2 separate regions of the Homo sapiens genome follow, and region 1 is linked to region 2. Evidence: fine-mapped expression QTL. A gene starts in region 2. The other region holds a variant in brackets. All regions are shown on one strand. Distances are from middle to middle. Region 1 overlaps USP34 (ubiquitin specific peptidase 34). Region 2 holds the start of USP34-DT (USP34 divergent transcript).

Evidence for each region. PIP is the estimated chance that this variant, and not a neighbour inherited with it, causes the effect.
Region 1: its variant is fine-mapped to the expression of USP34-DT in whole blood (INTERVAL, PIP 0.99).

Annotation. Positions count from the first base shown.
Region 1 is chr2:61,394,486-61,402,817 of GRCh38, forward strand. It overlaps USP34 (ubiquitin specific peptidase 34), which reads right to left. Exons shown (of 80, transcript NM_014709.4): 4 at 698-748; 5 at 368-517. Among named protein-coding and RNA genes, the nearest start is that of SNORA70B, 19 kb to the right of the region's middle. The variant G/GGGGGAAGGAGGCGGAAGCA (reference allele first, on the strand shown) is at 4,003.
Region 2 is chr2:61,466,100-61,474,431 of GRCh38, forward strand. It overlaps USP34-DT (USP34 divergent transcript), which reads left to right and starts at 4,997. Exons shown (of 3, transcript NR_185882.1): 1 at 4,997-5,280. USP34 (ubiquitin specific peptidase 34) reads right to left here and starts at 4,988. Exons shown (of 80, transcript NM_014709.4): 1 at 4,551-4,988. The coding sequence starts at 4,593. RefSeq lists enhancers at 1-238, 767-1,266 and silencers at 4,310-4,729, 4,820-4,899, 4,930-5,239.

The DNA.
Region 1 (8,332 bases), 72 kb before region 2:
AGGAGGTAGAAGCTACAGCCTAAACAACGGAGTGAGACCCTCTCTCTCAAAAAAAAAAAAAAAAAAAAAAAAATAAGTTAAAAAATGAAAATTAGCAAAAGTTTTATGCAGTCACCTATCTTAGATAAAATAGATAATTATAGATAGTCATGACCCCTTTTAGCTTTAAAACAGGTAACTTAATTTTATTCAAATTCTAATCTTAATAATAAAGATCGTTAAAACGTTTCTGTACTCATTTTGTCAAAATAAAAAAAAATTACACATGCAAATCATTCAAAACCTTCCTTTTCAGAGCATAAAATTCATGTTACTGATATGCTAGACATTGCTCCCAAAATTAAGATCAATTCAAAACAATACTTACATTAGACACAACTGTAATAAACGCATGTGCTATAAGAAATGGCAAAGTTTCAGGAGTTCCATATTCAAAGCAATCCTTCATGAGAGAAAGGCCATTTTTCCCACAAAACAAACATACATAACGAAGCAAATGCAATGGTACTTCTACATCCTGGGAAAATAAAGAAAACATGTCATTATTTGAAAACGTACAAATAATTTTTATCTTAGCAATACTGGAAAGATACTGATGAGAAACTCAAAAGACATATATAAATAATAAAACATATGGATGAGGCTTTGTTAAAAAAATAAAATTTTCCATAAAAGAATAAAAAAGGTAAACACTTACATTCATATCACAGAATGCCCCTAATATGTTACTTTCTTGAGTTGATATATCCTAATTAAAAAAAAAAAAGCAAGTAAAATTAGGTTACAACTACTAACCTTTAAAAAATACAATTCTATAAAAGACTGATTTTATAAAAACCGAATAAACAGATTATTTTGCAATTACTCCTGATAAGCAGTGATACTCCTAACTGAAGCTAATAGGATTCAGCTCTAAGGTGTATTTTAGTCCTCCTTTAAGTAGAAGCCATTCCACAGTACATACTACACACTATTTTGCCTTATTAAACATTAAGTAATCTTGCCTTAAAAAAATCAATGTTTAAAATCCCGGCCGGACGCGGTGGCTCACGCCTGTAATCCCAGCACTTTGGGAGGCCGAGGCGGGCGGATCACGAGGTCAGGAGATCGAGACCACGGTGAAACCCCGTCTCTACTAAAAATACAAAAAATTAGCCGGGCGCAGTGGCGGGCGCCTGTAGTCCCAGCTACTCGGGAGGCTGAGGCAGGAGAATGGCGTGAACCCGGAAGGCGGAGCTTGCAGTGAGCGGAGATCGCGCCACAGCACTCCCGCCTGGGCGACAGAACGAGACTCCGTCTCAAAAAAAAAAAAAAAAAAAAAAAAAATCCCAGCACTTTGGGAGGCCGAGGCGGGTGGATCACCTGAGGTCAGGAGATCAAGATCAGCCTGACCAACATGGTAAAACCTTGTCTCTACGAAAAATAAAAAAATTGTCAGTGTGGTGGTGGGCACTTGTAATACTCAGGAGGCTGAGGCATGAGAATGGCTTGAACCTGGGAGGCAGAGGTTGCAGTGAGCTGAAATCACGCCATTACACTCCATCCTGGGTGACAGAGCAAAACTGTCTCAAAAAAAAAAAAAAAGGTTTAAAATAAAACTCAAGGTAATTCTGATAAAAATACATGATAGTTAAGTGGTTTTTGTTTTGAAAAGTTTCTCAACAAACTTTTTCATGATTTTTGAAACTGCTTTGGAATTCCCTAGAGGTATACTGAAGAGTTACACGTGCTTCCATTGCATAAGATTTCAACTGCCTAAAAGCACAGTTATCCATTGTTGGTGAGTATAAGTTCGTATGAACTTTTTGGAAGGCTATTTGGCAATATCCTTCAATATTTAAAATACACATTGCCTTTGACCCAGCAATTCTAGCTTTTTGTTCTAAGGAACTAATCATACTAGTACTGGAAAATATACGCATAACGATGCTCATTAACCCACAATTAGAAACAACTGACATCCATCAATTTGATGGCTAAATGAATGGCATAACCATTCCAGCTAATTTTTTTTTTTTTTTTAGACGGAGTCTCGCACTGTCGCTCAGGCTGGAGTGCAGGAGCATGATCTCGGATCACTGCAAGCTCTGCCTCCTGGGTTCACGCCATTCTCCTGCCTCAGCCTCCAGAGTAGCCGGGATTACAGGCGCCCACCACCATGCCCGGCTAATTTTTTGTATTTTTAGTAGAGACAGGGTTTCACCGTGTTAGCCAGGATGGTCTCGATCTCCTGACCTCATGATCCACCCGCCTCGGCCTCCCAAAGTGCTGGGATTACAGGCATGAGCCACCTCGCCCAGTCCTAACTCTTAAAAATAATAAGGTGAAAAAGGCATGAGGGATCTTTGGGGGATGATGGAAATACTCTAAAATTAGAAAGTGATGATGGCTGCACAACTCTGTAAATCTACTGAAAATAAACTGTATACTTTAATCAAGTGATTTTTAAGGTTACATCTTTAAAATGCTGTCTGAAAATAAGGTAGAATCTTACATACAGACAAAACACCTGTTACATTTCTGAAAGAAAATTTATGATCATGATCTGATGTTCATAATTTTTACGTTTGGAAATATCTCAACTTTTTTTGAGAAGAGAATGAAGAAAAAAGAGAAGTTCAAAGGCCTTTCAAAGTCTGTATTTTGTATATTCTGTATTTAATTTTTCACACTGAGGCCGGGCATGGTGGCTCACATATGTAATCCCAGCACTTTGGGAGGCCAAGGTGGGCAGATCATTTGAGGTCAAGAGTTCTAGACCAGTCTGGCCAACATACTGAAACCCTGTCTCTACTAAAAATACAAAAATTAGCCAGGTGTGATGGTAGGCACCTGTAATCCCAGCTACTTGGGAGGCTGATGCAGGAGAACTGCTTGAACCCAGGAGGTGGAGGTCGCAGTGAGTCACGATTGCACCACTGCACTCCAGCCTGGGAGACAAAATGAGGCTCCATCTAAAAAAAAAAAAAAAAAAATTCACGCTGAAAAGACTGCTTTTGGCCAGGCCCGGTGGCTCACACTTAGAATCCCAGCACTTTGGGAGGCCAAGGCCGGCGAATCACTTGAGGTCAGGAGTTCAAAACCAGCCTGGCCAACATGGTGAAACCGCGTCTCTACTAAAAATACAAAAACTGGCTGTGTGCAATGGCTCACGCCTGTAATCCCAGCACTTTCAGAGGCCGAGGTGGGCGGATCATGATGTCAGGAGATCAAGACCATCCTGGACAACATGGTGAAACCCCATCTCTATTAAAAATACACAAATTAGCTGGGCGTGGTGGCACACACCTGTAGTCCCAGCTCCTCGGGAGGCTGAGGCAGTAGAACTGCCTGAACCCAGGAGACGGAGGCTGCAGTGAGCTGAGATCGTGCCACTGAACTCCAGTCTGGGTGACAAAGCAAGACTTCATCTCAAAGAAAAAAAAAAAGAAATTAACCAGGGGTGATGGCACACGCCTGTAATCCCAGCTGCTCAGCAGACTAAGGCACAAGAATCACTTGAACCCGCTTGGGGGAGGGGGGTTGCAGTGAGTCAAGATTGTACCAATGCACTCTAGCTTGGGCAACAGAGCGAGACTCCGCCTCCAAAAAAAAAGATTGCTTTTAGGTTGAGTGCAGTGGCTCACACCTATAATCCCAGCACTGTGGGAGGCTGACTGCTTGAACCCAGGAGTTCAAGACTAGCCTCGTACTCACGGGCGAGACCCAATCTCTATTAAAAATTTTTAAAAATTAGCCAGGCATGGTGGTGCGTGTCTGTTGTCCCAGATACTCAGGAGGCTGAGGCGGGAGGATTGCATGAACTTGGGAGGTCTAGGCTGCAATGAGCCATGTTCATGCCACTGCACTCGATCATGAGTGACAGAGTGAGACCTGGTGAAAGAGAAGGAGGAGAGAGATGGGGGAGGACAGAAAGAGAGGGAGAGAAGGGGGGTGAAAGGGTAAGGGAGGAGGAGGGGAAAGTGGGGGAAGGACGGAGAAGCGGGGGAAGGAGGCGGAAGC[G/GGGGGAAGGAGGCGGAAGCA]GGGGAAGGAGGCGGAAGCAGGGGAAGGAGGCGGAAGCGGGGAAGGAGGCGGAAGCGGGGGAAGGAGGCGGAAGCGGGAAGAGGGGAAAGTCGGGGGAGGGAGAAAGGGGAGGGAGAAAAGGGAAGGAGAAAGAGGGAGGAGAGAGAAAATAACTGCTTTTATGATCAGAAAGCTAGCTAGAAACTTTCATCTGAAAAAAGCTACCAAAGAAACCCATTCATCATTGCCATCACCTATTTTAGATATTTAAGTTACACTGCTGAAATAAAGTCTGAAAATCATGGATTGAAAGCAATCATACAGAACTCAGAACATTTCAAAATAAACAAAAAATGTCCTTAGAGAAATGAAGTCTCAAAGTAAGTGTTAAACCTCCTAAATCCACTCCTGGCTATGACAACCGGGGCCAGAGGTGAAGCTTTATGTTAATCTCAACGAACTTTTTCATGGTCTTCAAAAAGTCCAGAATTTAAGACCTCCTGTGGTATTGTTAAATACAGAATCATGGACCAGGTGAACCATGCTAGAATCTTAGAGCCACGATTTCTAGTGCCTAACATGGGCACAGCTAAAAAATCTCCTAACGGCCGGTGCAGTGGCTCATGCCTGTAATCCCAACACTTTGAGAGGCCTAGGTAGGTGGATCACGAGGTCAGGAGTTCAAGACCAGCCTAACATGGTCTCTACTAAAACTACAAAAATTAGCTGGGTGTCGTGACGCATGCCTGTAATCCCAGCTACTCAGGAGGTTTCAGCCTCCTGAGAATTGCTTGAATCCCGGAAGGCGAAGGTTGCAGTGAGCTGTTATCATGCCACCGCACTCCAGCCTGGGCAACAGGATCAAAACTCCGTCTCAAAAAAAAAAAAAAAAATTGAGTTCTATCCTGGTATGCAGTGTTACTCAGATTTGATTACATCTATTTTGGTGATTCAGGGGAACTGTTTTGCCACTCTATTTCCAATATGAATACATAAAGCTAGCATCCTAAAATGTTATAATCTCATTTTTTAAGTAGTATATAAAAAATTAACACACATCTATAGGTTAAAAAAAACACTAAGAACAACACTAGGAAGTCTCATTAAAAGACGAATTAACGGTCCCGGGCGCGGTGGCTCATGCCTGTAATTCCCAGCACTTTGGGAGGCTGAGGCAGACGGATCACGAGGCCAAGAGTTGGAGATCACCCTGTCCAACACAGTGAAACCTCGTCTCTACTAAAAACACAAAAAAATTAGCCAGGCGTGGTGGCGGGCGCCTGTAATCCCAACTACTCGGGACGCTGAGGCCGGTGAATCGCTTGAACCTGAGAGGCAGAGGTTGCAGTGAGCCGAGATAACACCACTGCACTCCAGCCTCGGCAACAGTGCGAGACACTGTCTCCCAAAAAAAAAAAAAAAAAGCTGTATTAACAGTATTTTTCAAAAGTTCTTATTTTAGGTAATCGCTGAGAAAGGCTTTAATAAACTTATCAATGATTTTTAAAGTCTTGCATTTTTTTTCCTCAAAAACCTCCCATTTACTACATGAGTTGATCCCATCCTATTTATAGCAGAGAAATTTGGTTATTTTAAAAGAGAAAACAGAGAGAAATAAATGAGTAACTATACAGGAAAGGCAATTTTTTTTTTTTTTTTGGAGATGGAGTCGCATTCTGTTGCCCAGGCTGGAGTGCAGCGGCACCATCCCGGCTCATTACAAGCTCCGCCTCCCGGGTTCACGCCATTCTCCCGCCTCAGCCTCCCCAGTAGCTGGGACTACAGGCACCCGCCACCACGCTTGGCTAATTTTTTCTATTTTTAGTAGAGACAGGGTTTCACTGTGTTAGCCAAGATGGTCTTGATCTCCTGACCTTGTGATCCACCCGCCTCGGCCTCCCAAAGTGCTGGGATTACAGGTGTGAGCCACCGCGCCCGGCCAGAGGAAAGGCAATTCTATGTAAATTAAGAAAATGCTGCTCCATGATCAAACCATGAAGAACTCAATGTCTCAAAATTTTTGCTTAAAAGTAACTCAGTGATGTTGGAATTAGTAGTGATAATTGTACAACGTTGGTATTATTCTAAAAAATACTAAATTGACTGGGCGTGGCAGCTCATCTTATAATCCCAGTACTTTGGGAGGCTGAGGCAGGAAGATTGCCCAAAGCCAGGAGCTCAAAGCCAGCCCAGGAAACAGAGCAAGACCCTGCCTCCTCAAAAAAATTGAAAAACTAGCTAGGCATGGTGGCATGCACCTGTACTCCCAGCTACTTAGGACACTGAAGGTGAAGGGTTACTTGAGTCCAGGAGTTCAAGGCTACAATGAATCATAATTGTGCCAGTGTACTACTCCAGCCTGAGTGACAGAGGAAGACCCTGATTCAAAAATTAAAAAATAAGTCCAGGTGCGGTAGCTTACGCCTGTAATCCCAGCATTTTGGGAGGCCGAGACAGGCAGGTCACAAGATCAAGTGATTGAGACCATCCTGGCCAACATGGTGAAACCCTGTCTCTACTAAAAATACAAAAATTAGCTGGGCATTTTGGGTGCGCGCCTGTAGTCCCAGCTACTTGGGAGGCTAAGGCAGGAGAATCGCCTGAACCCAGGAGGCAGAGGTTGCAGTGAGCCGAGATCGCGCCATTGCACTCTAGCCTGGTGACCAAGCAAGACTCTGTCTCAAAAAAAAAAAAAAAAAAAATTAAAAAATAAAACCTTCATGTATATATTTCATCTGTCTGATTATACCATACGTATATTTAACATAAATGCAGTGGTTTCTCTCCTTTCTACTTTTTTAAAGATAGGGTCCCACTCTGTCATGCAGAGGCATGATCATAACTCACTGCAGCTTTGACCTCCTGGCTCAAGTGATCCTTCTGCCTCAGCCTCCCAAGTAGCTGGGACTACAGGCGTGCACCACTACGCCCAGTTAATTTTTTTTTCTTTTGTAAAGATGAGCTCTTGCTATGTTGCCCAGCCTAGACTTAAACTCCTGGCCTCAAGTGGTCCTCTTGTCTTGGCTTCCAAAAATGCTGGGATTACAGGTGTGAGCCACTGTACCTGGCCCTATTTTTTTTTTTTTTTTTTTTTTTTTTGAGACAGAGTCTCACTCTGTCACCTAGGGTGGAGTGCAGTGGCACGATCTCAGCTCACTGCAAGCTCCGCCTCCTGGGTTCATGCCATTCTCCTTCCTCAGCCTCCAGAGTAGCTGGGACTACAGGCACCCGCTACCACGCCCTGCTAATTTTTTTTTTTTTTTTGTATTTTTAGTAGAGACAGCGTTTTACCGTGTTAGCCAGGATGGTCTCGATATCCTGACCTTGTGATCCACCTGCCTCAGCCTCCAAAAGTGCTGGGATTACAGGCATGAGCCACCGCGCCCGGCCCATTTTTATAATCTTTTTCCCTATACTTAGAAAAAAACTTACAACACTAGAGCAATTATCTGATTTCACAGAATTACACATAATTATTCAGGATAAAAAATGCAACTAGCATGGCAAGGCACTATGGCTCATGCCTGTAATCCCAGCACTTTGGAGGTCAAGGCAGGAGGATCACCTGAGGCCATGAGTTCGAGACCAGGCTGGTCTCGATAAACCCCATAAACACAGATAAACCCCATCTCTTAAAAAAGTAATAATAAAATAAAAATAAACTTAGCCAGGCACTGTAGTGAATGCCTAGTGTCCAAGCTACTCAGGAGGCTGAGGTGGGTGGATCGTTTGAGCCCAGGAATTCAAGGTTATGGTGACCAATGATCACACCACCGCACTCCAGCCTGGGAGACAGAGCAAGACCCTGTCTCTTAAGGGGAAAAAAATTAAAACTAGGCCATTCCCCCTTTTGATCCTGAATTAGTACTACTTATGTCCAATTACCGAACCTTTTAAAATATCAGCTTTGATGGGGACAATAGGAAAGAGAAGAAGGAAGGGAGACAGAAGGAGTGGCTCCAAGTTCCCATATTATTTAGAATACAGTAATTAGTTCAAAATGATTTAGAAGTAGTGCAGTAGAGTAAGACCCGGATTCTAGGACTCTTCTCAGCAATATGCCCAATCAAATCTTTTAACCTCTGTAGGCCAGTTGCTTCTTCTATAAAATAAAAGTGTTGAGTAGGTTTCTAAAGACACAGCTATCAAAATACTAACACATGAGTTTTGAATCTTGTCCTCCTAAGAATTTTGGCTAAGTTGTGCCTCTTTAAAAAATATTAACGAAAAATCAAAATCAAAGGCTTAAGAAAGGATAGCACAGCAGCACAAAGAAAAGACTAGATGGACAATTTCCTCAAAGAAAAGTGGGATAAAAATCTCTAGTAAGCTGTATTACATTTCATAATA
Region 2 (8,332 bases):
TACTACTACAGAATGACTACGGTTAACAATAATATATGATACAAGCCGGGCATGGTGGCTCATGCCTATAATCCCAGCACTTTGGGAGGCCAAGGCGGGCAGATCACTTGAGTTCAAGAGTTCAAGACCAGCCTGGCCAACGTGGTGAAACCCCATCTCTACTAAAAATACAAAAATTAGCCGGGCTTGGTGGCACATGCCTGTAGTCCCAGCTACTTGGGAGGATGTGGCAGGAGGATTGCTTAAGCCCAGGAAGCGGAGGCTGTAGTGACCCAAGAGCATACCACTGCACTCCAGCCTGGGCAATGGGAAAGAAACCCTATCTCAAAAAAACAATAATATATGATACAGTTTCAAATAGCTAGGAGGATACTGAATGTTCCCAAAGCAAATGCTAAATGTTTGAGATGGATATACTAATTAACTTCAACTGATCACTATACGTTTTATGTATTGAAACATCACTATGTACACCATGAATATGTAAAATTATTATTTATCAACTAAAAATTTTTTAAACAAAATTTTTAGGCCAGGCATGCTGGCTCACTCCTGTAATTGCAGCACTTTGGGAGGTACAGGCAGGCAGATCCCCTGAGGTCAGGAGTTTGAGACAAGCCTGGCCAACATGGCAAAATCCCACCTCTACTAAAAATACAAAAATTAGCCAGGCAAGGAGGCGGGTGCCTGTAGTCTCAGTTACTCAGGAGGCTGAGGCAGAAGAATCACTTGAATCCGGGAGGTGGAGGTTGCAGCTAGCCGACACTGCATTCCAGCCTGGGTGAGAGTTAGACTCCGTGTCAAAAAAAAAAAAAAAAATTTATTACACTCGTTTGCCCAGGTAGCCTTCTCTAAGTGTGATCACTGTTTGTTAATTTCACAAGAAACAGTGTTTTTGGTTTGTTTTTTCAAGACAGCAGTCTTGGCCAGGCGCGGTGGCTCACGCCTGTAATCCTAGCATTTTGGGAGACGGAAGCGGGTAGATCACACGGTAAGGAGTTCAGACCAGCCTGGCCAATATGGTGAAACCCCGTTTCTACTAAAAATACAAAAATTAGCTGGGCATGGTGACGTGTGCCTGTAATCCCAGCCACTTGGGAGGCTGAGGCAGGAGAATTGCTGAACCCAGGGAGGCAGAGGTTGTAGTGAGCCGAAACCGTGCCACTGCACTCCAGCCTGGGTGACACAGCGAGATTCTGTCTCCAAATAAAAAATAAAAAAATAATAATAATAAAAAAAGCAGTCTTACTATGTTGCCCACGCTGGTCTCGAACTCCTGGCCTCAAACAATCCTCCTGCCTCAGCCTCCTGCCGAGGCGGGATTACAGGGGCGCACCACCACGTCTGACTGTTTTGTGAGGTTGCTTTAATACTAATTACGTATTTTTCAGCATGACCTGGAAACACACCACCCAAAAATATGCACAATTTTATTGCTTCTCTCAGCTGGCTAAACTGTTACAGGGTGTCGTATTTAAAGATGAATTCTGAGCACATTTTGGGAGGACTGTAACTTTGTTTTTTTTTTTTTTTTTTTTGAGATGGAGTCTTGTTCTGTGGCCGAGGCTGGAGTGCAGTGGCATGATCTCGGCTCACTGCAACCTCCGCCTACCAGGGTTCAAGCAATTCTCCTGCCTCAGCCTCCCAAGTAGCTGGGACTACAGATGCCTACACCACCACACCCGGCTAATTGGTGAATTTTTAGTAGAGATGGGGTTTCACCATATTGGCCAGGCTGGTCTCGAGCTCCTGACCTTGTGATCCGCCCACCTCGGCCTCCCAAAGTGTTGGGAATACAGGCGTGAGCTGTATTCAGAGTTGCCCGGCCAACTCTGAATTTCTAAATCAACGTTGAACTGATGCTCATCTTTGTACAAGGTACAGGCGGGAAAAGGGCAGACTTTATAGGTAATTACTGCAAATGAGATCACAAGAAACACATATAATCTACTTCAACAAGTTTTATCAAGCTCCAACCACTCATGTTCATTATCATGCTCCATCATAGCCACGGATAAGCAAAGAACTACAGAAAAAAAAACAACTTTTAATAGTGTGGTATAAACTACACATGTAATTGTTGAAGTAAAAAAAATGTTTTTTGAGACAAAGTTTCGCTCTTGTTGCCCAGGCTGGAGTGCAATGGCACAATCTCGGCTCACTGCAACCTCCGCCTCCGGGTTCAAGCAATTCTCCTGGTCAGCCTCCCCAGTAGCTGGGATTACAAGCATGTGCCACCACGCTCAGCTAATTTTGTATTTTGAGTAGAGACGGGGTTTCTCCATGTTAGTCAGGCTGGTCTTGAACTCCCAACCTCAGGTGATCCGCCAACCTTGGCCTCGCAAAGTGTTGGGATTACAGGCGTGAGCCACTGCGCCTGGCCGTAAATTTTTTTAAAAAGGAAGCATCACTGTGAGATTATTGTTTAAGAGTTAAACTTTTAAATTGAGCCTCAAAGGCAATATTAAGAAACTAAGTATTTTTAGAGTCCACTGGCTTACACACAAATAGAAAATCCTTACTTGTTCATTAGAACAGGTTTCTTAGAGGGTGCACATGACCAGATTTTGAGAAGCTGGTTGAACTAACTGTATTTGCTTAAAGGTAATAAAAGCTAAATTCTATTTCAATTCTCCACATTTCTAACACTCCATAAATGCACTGCATTTTTCAGTGCTTCTAACCAAAGTTCTAGGGGTTTCCCAGATAATCTTAAATAAGACCTTTCATTATGATCAAGATGCCACCTCTTTTCAAAAGATAAACCAACTTTACTTTCTTTAGATGTTTTGTTTAAAATTTTCCAAGTTTAAGATATTTTAAAATCAGCCAGGCGCAGTGGCTCACGCCTGTAATCCCAGCACTTTGGGAGGCCGAGGCAGGCGGATCACAAGGTCAGGAGCTCAAGACCAGCCTGACCAACATGGTGAAACCCCGTCTCTACCAAAAATACAAAAATCAGCCGGGCATGGTGTGGGGAACCTACATTTCCAGCTACTTGGGAGGCTGAGGCAGGAGAATCGCTTGAACCTGGGAGGCAGAGTTTGCAGTGAGCCGAGATCATGCCATTGCCCTCCAGCTTGGGCAACAAGAGCAAAACTCTGTCTCAAGAAAAAAAAAAGATATTTAAAATCACCAACAAAATTAAGTACTTGTTCCTCATATTACATTGCAAAACGATTAACTTTCCAAGTTGAGCGTAACAATCATAATCACACGACTTGTATGTGAGATATAAAACACAGTAAGTATTGAGGATTTAAGTTTATCATATCGTAAACCGCCTGCGCCAGAAATAAAAGTATCTCAAAATACACACAAATAATCTTAAAATTCTAGGATAATTTAGGGTGACACAAATACTGGAACCTCTAGTTGGAATATGTGCAAAAGCCTATTCCACCTATCAGGAAGTAAATACGGAGTTGAAATTAAGTTAGAACCCTTCCACTTTTATTATTGTCTTTGGTCATTAAAGTGACAGTCAAACACAAATACCATGGTACATTTTATAAATCAACTGTTTTAGCGAATTGTATTACAAAATTAGATAGTCTGAAAGTCTGTGGAAATATCACAAACAGAATACAAATCCAAAACCCACATAAACTGTTCATAAGTGAGCATTTTTTCAACAATCAACTTTTTGTAAATTGATCCCTTCATCTAATTCACCTCTGCCAACTAGGCCTTTACGCCCAGAAGTAGTTGATTTGCAATATATCTTCTATAAGCTGAAATACCATCTTGCAAGGGTCGAGAATAAAATAAAAAGGCCAGAAAAGATCAACGTACCCTTTTTAATAATAAAAAGTAAAGTACCAGGTAAAAGGCCTTTCCTTCCAAGAGAGATAGGCCATAACTATCCCGGGATGGTATGTGTAGTACAGTGCTCTGCTTAACAGAATGTACCATTAAAGCGGTGAATGCTACACTAAGAAACATCATTAACAAATTTATTTTAAAAATAGGTATGAAGGTTCCAATCATCACTATCACAGTTCGTTTTCAGCTATTTAAGGTCTGGCTGAAGTGTTTAAGACACCCACAAACCCGCAAGGGAGGGAAAAACCACCACCCTGCTCCCGGGAGTTTAATGAAAATTAGCAGGTAAGAGAGGCCTCGGCAGCACGCTGGAAATCAAAGAGGGCGGCCGGAGGATTTGGACTGCGGAGGAAAGCCTCGTCCTCCGACCCCACCTCCCCGCACCTTCCCGGCAGGGCGAAGGAGGCGAAGGCGGCGAGGGGTTCATTACTGCCTTCATTAATTGACACCTGTAATGAGGAAACTTTCCGAGAGCCCAGAGCGCCCGGGCCAGGCCGAGCCGGAGCTCCGCGGCGGCCGCCTCTCGGGCGCCCAGGTAACCCGGCCGGGCTGGGCCCGAGGCGCCGCGGCGGCCGCGCCACCGCGCACCTTCCCGGGGCGCTAGGCCCGCACGCCGCCCGGCCCGGCCGTCGCCTCCCGCAGGCCGCGGCAGCCCGGGGAGGCCAGAGAGCTGCGCGAGGACCCCAAACCGTGCACCCCGACAGGCCGCTACCGCGGCTACTTACTTTCATTTAACACCTCCACCAGGTCTGCGCAGTTCTCGCACATCGTTCGGCCGCCGCCCCCCCCCTCCCCCGCTTCGGATCACACTGACTGATCCCGACCGGCGGGGGGGAGGGGAGAGAGGCGGAGGAGGGGGCCGGCCGGCCGGCGGGGCGGGGAGGCGACTAGGGCGGGCGGCGGCGGGGACGGGGCGGGGAGCAAGAGAATGGGGGAGGGGGCCGGCGGTCCCCGCAGCGGGAGGGGGAGAGGAGGGGAGCGAGGGGAGGTGCGCAGGCCGGAGGGGCGCCGAGGCGCCGGCGGCGGGGAAGGGGGGGAAGGACGGGGGGAGGGGAGAGGGGGGGAGGGGGCGGGTGGGGAGAGAAGCAGCAGAGTCACTTCACCGACCAGACGCCGCGGCCACCGCCGACGCCGCCGCCATTTTAACAGAGCGCTCGGGCTGCGCTCGGCTCTTTCCGCCCGGGCTTAGGAGCGGACGAGAGGCGCCTCGCGCTCTCATTCCTCCGCCTCCCTCCCTTTCTCGCCTCTCCTCCGCCCCCCACCTCTCCCTCCGCACACACGCCGCACGCTCCACACCCCGCCGTGGCCGGCTCGCCGCCCTCCCTTTCCTCTTCCGTCCGGCCTCCCCGCCCTCGGTCCACCCCCTCCGCGCGCTCGCCCACCCCGCCCAGCCCGGATCTCTGTCAGCGGCCGGAAGGGAAACGCGAAGCCAGCGCGGCCGCGGGGGGAGTCCGGGTGAGTAGGAGAAGATGGCGGAGGCAACGGACGGGTCGCGGTTGCGTGGCGTCGCCCACCACGACCCACTCCACGGGCTCTGAGGCCCGGGGAGCGCCAGGTCACTCGCTCCGTCCTGTCCCCCGCCCCTGGGCTTCGCCATTTTTCCCCAGGGCCTGGGTCGGGGAGTTGGTGCGGGTTTCTTTGGTGTCCCCGGCCTCTTCCGCGCTTAGGCTTTTGGGGTACGGGAAGCAAGGAGTCAACTTGGGTGCCGGGCCGGGTCTACGCCGTAGCCCTCTTTCGGGCGCAAGGGCCACTCCCCCCGGGGTCTGAGAGTGAATCAGCCCAGGGCCCGGCTTAACTGCATCGGTGATTATCGCTACCCTGCAGTTCCTTGAAGGTCCTCCGTCCTGGAGCAGTAAGATCCTTGACGTAACTAGAAATGGCAGGGTAAGGAGTGTTTGCCTGACATCGTCTCGTTTTTACGGAAGAGGGCCCCTCACGATGTGCCCATCAGCCCCACCTGAAATAGCAAGAAATCTTCTTCAGCAGAGAGCGAATAACAAGGATATTAAGATAAAGAACAGGTGAAGGGGGCAGTCAGCTGAAGCTTGTAAGGGAATTTTCCTCACGCCGGCACTTACCCCTTGCTTGCTAATTTTTGTGTTCAACGTGTTTACATAGACATGTGACTGCAAAGTCCGAAAGATCGTGTACAGAATCTCTGAACGGTAACCAGAGTGTCTGTCAAGGCTCTGTAGTCATTCTCTCGATAGCTTTTGTGGAGGTTATGGCACGCCCATCTCTCCATGCCAGAACCACCTGGTTCCAAATGCTTTGCCTTTCTGCTGCTTGAAGTTGATACTATAAACAGTCTGCCCAACCCGTTTTGTTTCCCACTAGCAGGTGATCCTTAGGATTGTAGTTCTATTCTACCATCATCTTCCCTTCTTCCTTGTCTTTCTCACAGAATTGGGTTTTTGCAGACTTACTTTGGATCCTGAGGCAGACATTCGTTGTCCACTCAACATACATTCCCACGTATCCCTTTTTTCCCTGCCAACACAACCCCAATTATTTTTATTTGAATTTTTTTTTTTTGAGACAAAGTCTCACTCTGTCGCCAAGGTTAGAGTGCAGTGGTGCGATCACAGTTCACTACAGCCTCCACTTTATGGGCTCAAGGGATCCTCCCACTTCCCTAGTAGCTGGGGCTACAGGCGCTCTCCACCACACGTAACTAATTGTTTTTTATTTTTAGTAGGGACAGGGTCTTGCTATGTTACCCAGGCTGGTCTCAAACTCCTGGCCTCAACTGATCCTCCGGCCCAAAATGTTAGGATTACAGGTATGAGCCAACGTGCTGGTCTCACGTTTTTTCAGGTAGCAGTTGAAACCAACCATCATGGTGATCTGGCTTTTCTAGGGCTGGCCATACATAATTGAGTTCCTCCTGATAAAAGGTAAGCAACAATCCTGAGAAACATAGTGGGAGCCCTGTGTCTACAAAAATTTAAAAGGTGGCTGGGCGCGTTGGCTCACTCCTGAAATCCCGCACTTAGGGAGGCTGAGGTGAGCAAATCACCTGAGGTCGGGAGCTCTAGACCGGCCTGACCAACATGGACAAAGCTCATCTCTGCTAAAAATACAAAATTAGGCATGGTGGTGCATGCCTGTAATCCCAGCTACTCAGGAGGCTGAGGCAGGAGAATCGCTTGAACCCGGGAGGCAGGGGTTGCGGTGAGCCGAGATCGCGCCATTGCACTCCAGCCTGGGATAAGAGTGAAACTCCGTCTCATAAAAAAAAAAAAAAAAAAAGGCCAGGCATGGTGGTTCATGCCTGTAATCCCAGCGCTTTGGGAGGCCGAGGCGAGAAGATCACTAAATCAGGAGATTGAGACCATCCTGGCTAACACGGTGAAACCCCGTCTCTACTAAAAATACAAAAAATTAGCCAGGCATGGTGGTGGGCGCCTGTAGTCCCAGCTACTTGGGAGGCTGAGGCAGGAGAATGGCATGAACCCAGGGAGCAAAGCTTGCAGTGAGCTGAGATCGCGCCACTGCACTCCAGCCTGGGCGACACAGCAAGACTCCGTCTCAAAAAAAAAAAAAAAAAATTACCTGGTCGTGGTGGCTCACGACTATAATCATAGTACTTTGAGAGTCCAAGGCAGATGGATTGCTTGAGCCTGGGAGTTCTACATCAACCTGGGCAACATGGCAAAAGTCCATCTCCAGTACATAAGAAAATTAGTGGAATGTGGTGGTGCACACCTGTAATCCCAGCTACTGGGGAGGCTGAGGTGGGAGGATCACTAGAGCCCAGGAGATTGAGACTGCAGTGAGCTGTGGTCATACCACTGCAGTCTAGCCTGGGTGACAGAGTGAGACCCTCTCTGGAAAAAAAAAGAAATGTAAGCAGAAATCTGCAGGATGGGTTCTTTGGGAAGAATTCCCAAAAGAATTCCTAATACGATGAGGGACAAATTCAGCTAACATACCATTTAACCCTTTCTGCCTGAAACATGGTCTTGATGCACAAAGTAATACCCATCTTGTAATTTTTTTAACAATGAAAACTTTTACCCCATTTGCGATTTCATTGTTTAAAAAATTTGATTAAACAGGCCGGGCACAGTGGCTCACGCCTGTAATCCCAACACTTTGGGAGGCTGAGGCAGGTGGATCACCTGAGGTCAGAGTTCAAGACCAGCCTTACCTACATGCTGAAACCCCATCTCTTCTAAAAATATAAAAAATGAGCCGGGTGTGGTGGCGGGCACTTTGTAATCCCAGCTACTCGGGAGGCTGAGGCTGGAGAATTGCTTGAACCCGGGGGTGGAGGTTGCAGTGAGCCGAGATTCTGCCATTGCACTCCAGCCTGGGCAACAAGAGCAAAAAAAATTCCATCTCGAAAAAAAATGATAAAACAGAATCATAAAGTGTGGATCCCTGATGCATCTTTGAACAACAGTCTATGCTCAGACTGCTTATGTGAGAAAAATAAAATGTATTTTTCTTGGCTGGGCATGGTGGCCTACACCTGTATTCCCAGAACTTTGAGAGGCTAAGG